Homo sapiens: one gene and its partner. The protein of the gene in region 2 purifies or fractionates together with the protein of the main gene of each other region. This does not show direct contact. Each region holds a gene or a part of one and is shown on either strand. Other genes may lie near its edges.

Region 1 (3,825 bases), on a different chromosome or scaffold from region 2:
GCCTTTTAAATTAGTGGTTCCTGATTCTGGCTGCACATTACAATCATCTGTAGAGCTTTCACAAATATACAAATGCCTGGAACACACCCCAGACTAGACTCCAGAGGAGGGTCCTGAGCACAGATGGGACTTCTAAGTTCTCCATGTAATTCTGGGTATAAAAGCGTTCATAATATCCTCTCATGATCTACAGTCATGTCCTTTTTTCCATTCCTGATAGTGGTTATATGTGCTGTCTCTCTTTATTTTTTAGTTTAAGCATAAGATTATCAAGTTTGTTGAACTTTCAAACCAAACAACTTTGGGCTATACTGATTCTTCTATCTGATGTCTGCTCTTCATTATGTCCTTTCTATTTGTCACGGGTTTAACGTGCTGTTCTTTGAACTTCCCACAGATGAAGGCTTAGCTCACTGACTTGCAGTCTTGCTTCTTTTCCCGTATATGCCTTTAAGGCTACATACCTTTCTCAGAGCCAGACTTTAGCTGCACTGCACAAATCTTAATGTGTGGCATTTTCATTATCAGCCATTTCAAGTATTTCTTGACTCCCATTGTAGATTTCTTCCAAATAACACCTTTGGCATTAAATTTCATTTCACCCCTCCAAATGATACAAATTACGGTATAATTGATTGAGATCTGGGAATGGCATTCTATATTTCAAATACACCTGAAATAAACTGACCATGTATTTTATACTTGAAGCATGTTTCTTTGTTTCAGAGAAAATCATGACACCTACCTATATGCTCTGCCACACATCCCATAGTTTCCGGCTCCATAGGAGCCCCCAATGATGAGGGTTATCTTAGGCACTTGGGCACAGGCCACAGCGGCCACCATCTTGGCACCATCCTTGGCAATTCCTTCAGCTTCATACTCTCTACCAACCATAAATCCTGAGAGAAAGATCAGAAAGAGAGCCTCTGGGTGATGGGATTAATATGCGGAACGCAATTCCACCAAAAGGACATCTTGTTTTACTAAACTCATCTTACTAAATGCCTCTCGCCTTAAGAAAATGTTTATATGTGAAACATACCGTTAAAAAGTTTGCTTTAAAAGGATAAAATAAAATTTTCTCTAATCACTTTCTAAATTTTCTTAAAGCAGTTCATCTGGATGCACACAGAAACCTTCAAACAATATGAGGATGCAATCTATCTTCAAGAGATGATCTTGGCTGGGTGCAGTGACTCACCCCCATAATACCAACAATTTGGGAAGCCTAAGCGGGAGGATCAGTTGAGGCCAGGTGTTTGAGACCAGCCTGGGCAACAAAGCGAGACCCTACCTCTATTTAAAAATAAATAAATAAAAATTTTAAAAAGGAGATGATGTCAAAGAAGCAGCTTGATGCTGAAAAGAATGTGACATGGCTAGTTAAGGACAAAGTGCTGTGATGAGCCTAACTATGAGGGCTTTAGCTTTCACTGACCTGGTTTTAAAACAGACTGTTCTTTCTAAAGTGATGCTTTGAAACTTTGAAGACATAAAGATGAATGTTTCATAGAGATGCTAACAGTCCCTGCCAGTGACTCAATAGCAAGGTTAAAAAAAAACTATTTTTCCATTTCAATAGAGGATCCTTCTATTTCTTCAAGCCCCTAGCTCTGTGGAGGCTGCTCTGCAACTTCACTGCCTTCCAGAACTTGGGTTCCTCTTTCTCTGCCTTATAACACTGAGTTGGGCTTCGCTTGTCTCCTTACCCCGCAAGTCTCCAGCAAAGGCATTTCTTCCATCTGTGGGCCTGCAGACTCACCTGCCTCATTGACTGCCACTATCCCTGGTTTGCCAAACTCCAGTATCTGGTCATCCAATTCAACCCAACCAGTTCCTCCAGAGCACGTGTGCCTTCTGCAGTCACCACAGGAATGGCAGCACAGCCCTTTACTTGGCACCATCTGCTTCCTGCAGCTATCCTACTCAGCTGGACCCTCAGAAAAGCTCAGAAACTCCTCAATCTCCCCAGCCTTGACTCCATTGTAACATTCCCACCATACCTACTTCAAATATCAGCTGTCTTCAAGTTCTCACCCCACCCAACCCGACCCACCATCCCTCTATTCTCTGGAGGGGATCCTGCCTTCAAAAAGAAGAGTGAGGCATCTCACTTCGCTTTCTCAAATCCTTCTTCTTCCAATCTTAAGAAAACTGCATAATCATGCTCCCCATCTTCCTTTACTCTTGAAGAAAAAGGAAAAAATCAGAGGTACTCGAAGACTGTCACTGAACCTTCTTCTCTTCTCTCAGGGGGGTTCTTATCTATTCCCACAGCTTTAAAATTACCTCCATATTCTGATGATGTCTACATTTGCATCTCTACCTAAAACACCTCTCCTGTGCTGAGACTTATTCACCTGCCCACTATATGCCTCCAGGTGAATATCCCACAGGAACCTCAAATGCAATGCTGAAAAACTAAACTCAACCCAACAGGGCCAAAACAAAACAAAACAAAAATGTAGATATCTTCAAACCACAGAGTTTTAACTGCCTGGTGGTTAACAATCCAGGAATCATTATTAAAAACAAGAACTCTGGTATAGTTAGGCTTCAGAATCCTTTCTATCTGCCCTTTTACATAAGTTACCATGCAGGACCCTCTTAGGCTGCCATTTGGATATAACTTCTCTCAACATTCATCTAACCAAATATCATGAACCTAAGTAGCTCACAGGATGAAGATGCTTTAGCACCAGTACTATTTCAAGCCCTGTTGACTGCCAAGAGCCTGACTCTTCCTTCTCAAAGAGGCTTGCATGATCCCAACAAGTACTAAGAGCCTCTCCTTCCTTTGAAGCTGAGGTAGCCTGGGATGGGGGAGGCTGTTTTCTGCTAACCAACATATCTGAGTGCCCTGTATATCTCAGACACTCTGCAACATATAATGAAGGATACCAGAGAATCAGAGAATTCACTCTTCAACCGTAACAGACCTTAAAAATCAATTTATCCACCATGTTAAGGTCATCTCTGGAGTAAAGTCCAGAGAGGTGACATATCTCACTTTGGTCATACCATTCTTTGGGGCCAAAACTCAAATCCCCAGACTTTGGTTCAGGGTATACACATACATTTTAAAATGATGTTACTTAAGTTGAATTAACTGTACAATAAAAGGGAAGACCGTAGCACGTGCCTGAAATCTTGAGGAGGAAAAGGGTCCTAGGAAAAGCATGATGCTCTCTGCAGTGATCAGATCATGCTCCTGCTGCTTTCTGGGTGTGTGGCTGTGCACACACAGGAGTAAAGGGTGGCCATGTGAATGCTGATCAGGTACATAACTCAGAAATAGCTTCACTTAGAAAATATGGATAATCAGCAAGGTGTGGTGGCTCGTGGCTCATGTCTGTAGTATCAGCACTTTGGGAGAACAAGGCGGGCAGATTGCTTGAGCTCAGGAGTTTGAGGCCAGTCTGGGCAACATGGTCTGGGTGAAACTACGTCTTACAAAAATACAAAAATTAACCAGGCATGGTGGCACATGCCTGTAGGCCCAGCTACTTGGGGGAAAGAAAATATGGATAATCTCCTCAGAATATTTAACATGCATGAAGAAAAGTGCTAACTCTTAAAGGGCCTCCAGAAAGAGCATGTCCAGTAGAACTTCCTGCTCTGATGAAGTGGTCTACATGTGTGCTGTCCAATACATGAGCCACACTGATGGTACAGCTCTGGAATCAATACAACCAAACTGATTAAGCTATTTTCTTACCAGTAATGTTTTGAAGGAACAGCAGAGGAATATTTCTTTGGCAGCATAACTGGACAAAGTGAGTACCCTATAAGCAAATAACATAAAAATCTTTTTAAAAGGGA
Region 2 (3,825 bases):
GTCATTGAGTTAACAACACTAGAACCATGAGAATGAGAAACCCTGGGCTTCTAACTCCCCCTCTAACACTTCCCCACCAGAAGGAGCCTTCTTGCACTCTAACCTCTAAGAATCCACCTTATTTAATATTTATTTAGTATTCATGTTACAGCTCTATGAGGGGAGAAATATACTGGAAAGAAGGAAAAATACCATTTTTTTCTCATTCTGAGCAAATGTGCGCATGCGCGTGCACACACACACACACACACACACACACACACACACACACACACACGTATACACAAAACCCCACAAGAGTATAGTACTATCTATGAAGGAAAGAGATACCACGTTAAATTTAACCAAGTATTTAGGAATGACAGGGAGCTAGGAAGGCGAAAACACATGTAATTTTATTTTTGTTTAACCTTAAGCTTGCCAACTTCTTTCCCTGAACAGCATTTGTCTTGTTTTGATACCCACCTACACTTATATTAGAAACGTACTGCAAACTATTTAGTGACTCCACTTTTAATTTATGGTCGTATGACTAAGATGTTTTGAATATAAGCCTATCCGTATGCCAGATATAAATTTCAGGAACTCTTAATGTCTCTTCTTTTACAGAAACTCTACCTCTATCCTGATGTAATTAGGTTGATTAAGAAAATTAAAGGCCACGGGCCAGAAAACTAACTTCCACAAATGCAACAAAAGGAAAATTTCTCCAATAACCTGTATGCAATGGGAAATCTTTCTTTTAAGTACCAAGTCAATTTCTTTAACTGTACAATGTATTCTAATTTGAAGGTTTTCAAATATAATACAGTAACAACAAAATATAATAAAATTAAGACTATAAGAAAACAGAGTAAATGGTATAATTCAATAATGACTAAAATAAAATGACACTATGGATTTTGTAATCAACCTATAATTATCTATTTAAATTTCACTTTACATACATAAGATCACAGCTGAGGTTAACCATAATTTCAAATTTTATCACCAGCCACTTGTGCTATTTTATCACATTTGAAAATATTCACTCGTATTATTTACTTCAAACAGTAATCTATAAATTTGTTTAGACTATAATAATTAAGGACCTTTCCTTCTTCAGGATAACTTAAAAAATTAAATGATGTATTGAACATACTACTAAAGAAAGTTTACTTTTTGATTATGGTCTCTGCATTGAAAATCTGTAGGAATTTTTCTTTAATAATTTTCAAATCTTCCCATGGCCTCTCTGTTCACAGAAATATCATCTTTGAAACAACTTGTGTGAGTACTTTATAAATCAAAAATTGATTCACATGACCATATTACCATAATCACCAATTTTAACAGTCTCCTACATATTTTCTATATCACTTTTCTTGATTACAAAATGTCAGTAATAAGAACACGCTCTTAATATAACAGAATATTTAATTACATCAGTTTCCCATGAACACACCAAAGTCACTTAATAATTATATTGGCCATTTCCACTGATCGGCAGGAGGCTCTTCCACTAATGGCTCCCATAGTTTCCATTCCCTCATTTTTCTTGCCAGATTTAGTTCATGTTCAGCCTGTTAATACAAATTTTTTAAAAGATCATTGGATTTTACTCTTCAACAGATATTTATCAGAACAACTGAAATTTAACTATTAGTTACTACTTTCATTTAATATCTCATAATCTATTCCACCATCAAATGTTGAATATTAAGTAATTAAATTACCTTAATTCTCACATCTACATAATCAGGAGTAAGAAAGGATATCTTTTGTTATCTTCTATTTGATTGAAATAGGCTATAGTGTTTAAAAGTTTAGCTGGTGAGGTTTTTTATCTTAATAATATTTCACAAGTTTTTTGAGCATCAGAAGTATGTCTTTTCATCTATGTCAGTGGCTTTCAAACTTTATTTTACCATGGCCCACAGTAAGAAAATATGTTTTATTTTGAGTTCCACAATACAAACATATAACTAAAACTTTTTAAATTATTATCTTTACTGGCAGTGATATATTCTTTTTTCTATTGTGTTTTTTTAAGCTAATCACTATCCAACTAACTGATTCCATGACCCACAGTCACTTGAGACCCAGAGTTTATAAAACAGTGATCTATGGAATGTAGAACACAATACATGTATAATTAATATTTACTAACTGAGTAAATTCCTTAATCAAATTATGTTTCATTTAATTTTTCCTTTCAAACACAACTTATATTTAACACACACATTTTAGGTAGCTTTTTATTTCATATTTTTTCTACAACAAACAATATTTATGACAACTCTAGCCAACTTATAAGATGAATACTATTAAACACCTGTCAGGATGTTAGAAAAGAAATTCAAACACAGAATAAGCGCTCAGATTATATTCAAGGTAATTATTATTACACAGTTAAAAGATAATACCCCATCTATGACAGCGGTCCCAAAAGTCAATCTATGTTTACAAGCAACTATAAAAAACAATGAGTTAAAGAGCAGATGAATGGAAATCAGGGGTAGAGGTATTACTAATGCCAAAAGGAGAAAATAATTTAAATACTGATAAAATATTTCCTAAGGTTGCCCTGGGTCTCACGAACATCCAATGCTTTCTCAATCTCCCCCAGCCATTATAGGGCATGAGGAGGTCACCTAGGCCTCATTCATCCTTGAGAATCAGCCCTATCTCAGGAACCTGGACCCAGCTGCACCTGGCCCCTGATGCCTATTTCCTCCTTTCTGACACACCATCATACCATCCATCTAGAAATGGGACTGTCTAATATGTTAGCCACTACCCATACATGGCTACTGGGGACTTGAAATGCAGCTAGTCCAAATTCAGATGTGCTGCAAAGTGTAAAATACATACCAGATTTTGATGACTTCATATAAAAAAGAATGTAAAATATCTCAATATTTTTATGATTATATTTAAATAATATACTACATATACTGAGTTAAAAAAATACTAAAATTAATTTACCCTTAATACTGACCATGAAAACATGGGGAACTGCACAGCTGACTTAAAAATACTTAATATGCCTTAAAACTTAATTCCATGAAAAATTGATGTATCAACTAAATAAAGTCATGATCAAAGTGAAATCAGGTGGTACAGAAAAGAGAAATAGGTATAGGGCAACAGTATAAGGTTTGCGGCAAGTTCCCATAACACTGTATCTAGTACCACAGCCAACCTGACGAATATAAAGGCCAGGTAAACAGGCCTTTGAATAACTGAAACAGTCTACATTCATAGAAAGCTGTCTGAATGCTATATTCCTCTTTTTCCAGAGCCATCTAACAATTCTTTTGATTTGGTATATCATGTCTGTTGGTGATATACCTCCCTAATCTCCAATATTATCCAATATTTCCTTTTATCTGTCCTTCAATCAACAGTAAGAAAACATTAGAAAGGGTTACATTTGAAAAAAGATGCAACAAAATAAAATTAAATGAAACAATTGAATATTTATCAGACACTTATAAGATGAAGACATTCTAAACCTATAATATGAGGGTTGTAGGGGTGTGGAACAACAAAATTTCACCAAATAAAAAAAATTTGAGCTGGGCAGGGTGGCTCACGCCTGTAATCCCAGCACTTTGGGAGGCCGAGGCAGGCAGATCACCTGAGGTCAGGAGTTCGAGACCAGCCTGACCAAAATGGAGAAACCCTGTCTCTACTAAAAATACAAAATTAGCTGGATGTGGTGGCACATGCCTGTAATCCTAGCTACTTAGGAGGCTGAGGCAGGAGAATTGCTTGAACCCGGGAGGCGGAGGTTGTGGTGAGCCGAGATCATGCCACTGCACTCCAGCCTGGGCAACAAGA

Evidence for each region.
Region 1: the proteins of NDUFA5 (region 2) and MCCC2 fractionate together in Homo sapiens (co-fractionation; one large-scale study listed by BioGRID). This does not show direct contact.

Annotation. Positions count from the first base shown.
Region 1 is NC_000005.10:71,646,174-71,649,998, reverse strand, and holds part of MCCC2 (methylcrotonoyl-CoA carboxylase beta chain, mitochondrial isoform 1 precursor), read right to left. Parts: intron 3,789-3,825; coding exon 3,722-3,788; intron 903-3,721; coding exon 746-902; intron 1-745. UniProt on the Homo sapiens protein: Carboxyltransferase subunit of the 3-methylcrotonyl-CoA carboxylase, an enzyme that catalyzes the conversion of 3-methylcrotonyl-CoA to 3-methylglutaconyl-CoA, a critical step for leucine and isovaleric acid catabolism.
Region 2 is NC_000007.14:123,540,659-123,544,483, forward strand, and holds part of NDUFA5 (NADH dehydrogenase [ubiquinone] 1 alpha subcomplex subunit 5), read right to left. Parts: intron 1,563-3,825; coding exon 1,461-1,562; 3' UTR 1-1,460. UniProt on the Homo sapiens protein: Accessory subunit of the mitochondrial membrane respiratory chain NADH dehydrogenase (Complex I), that is believed not to be involved in catalysis. Complex I functions in the transfer of electrons from NADH to the respiratory chain.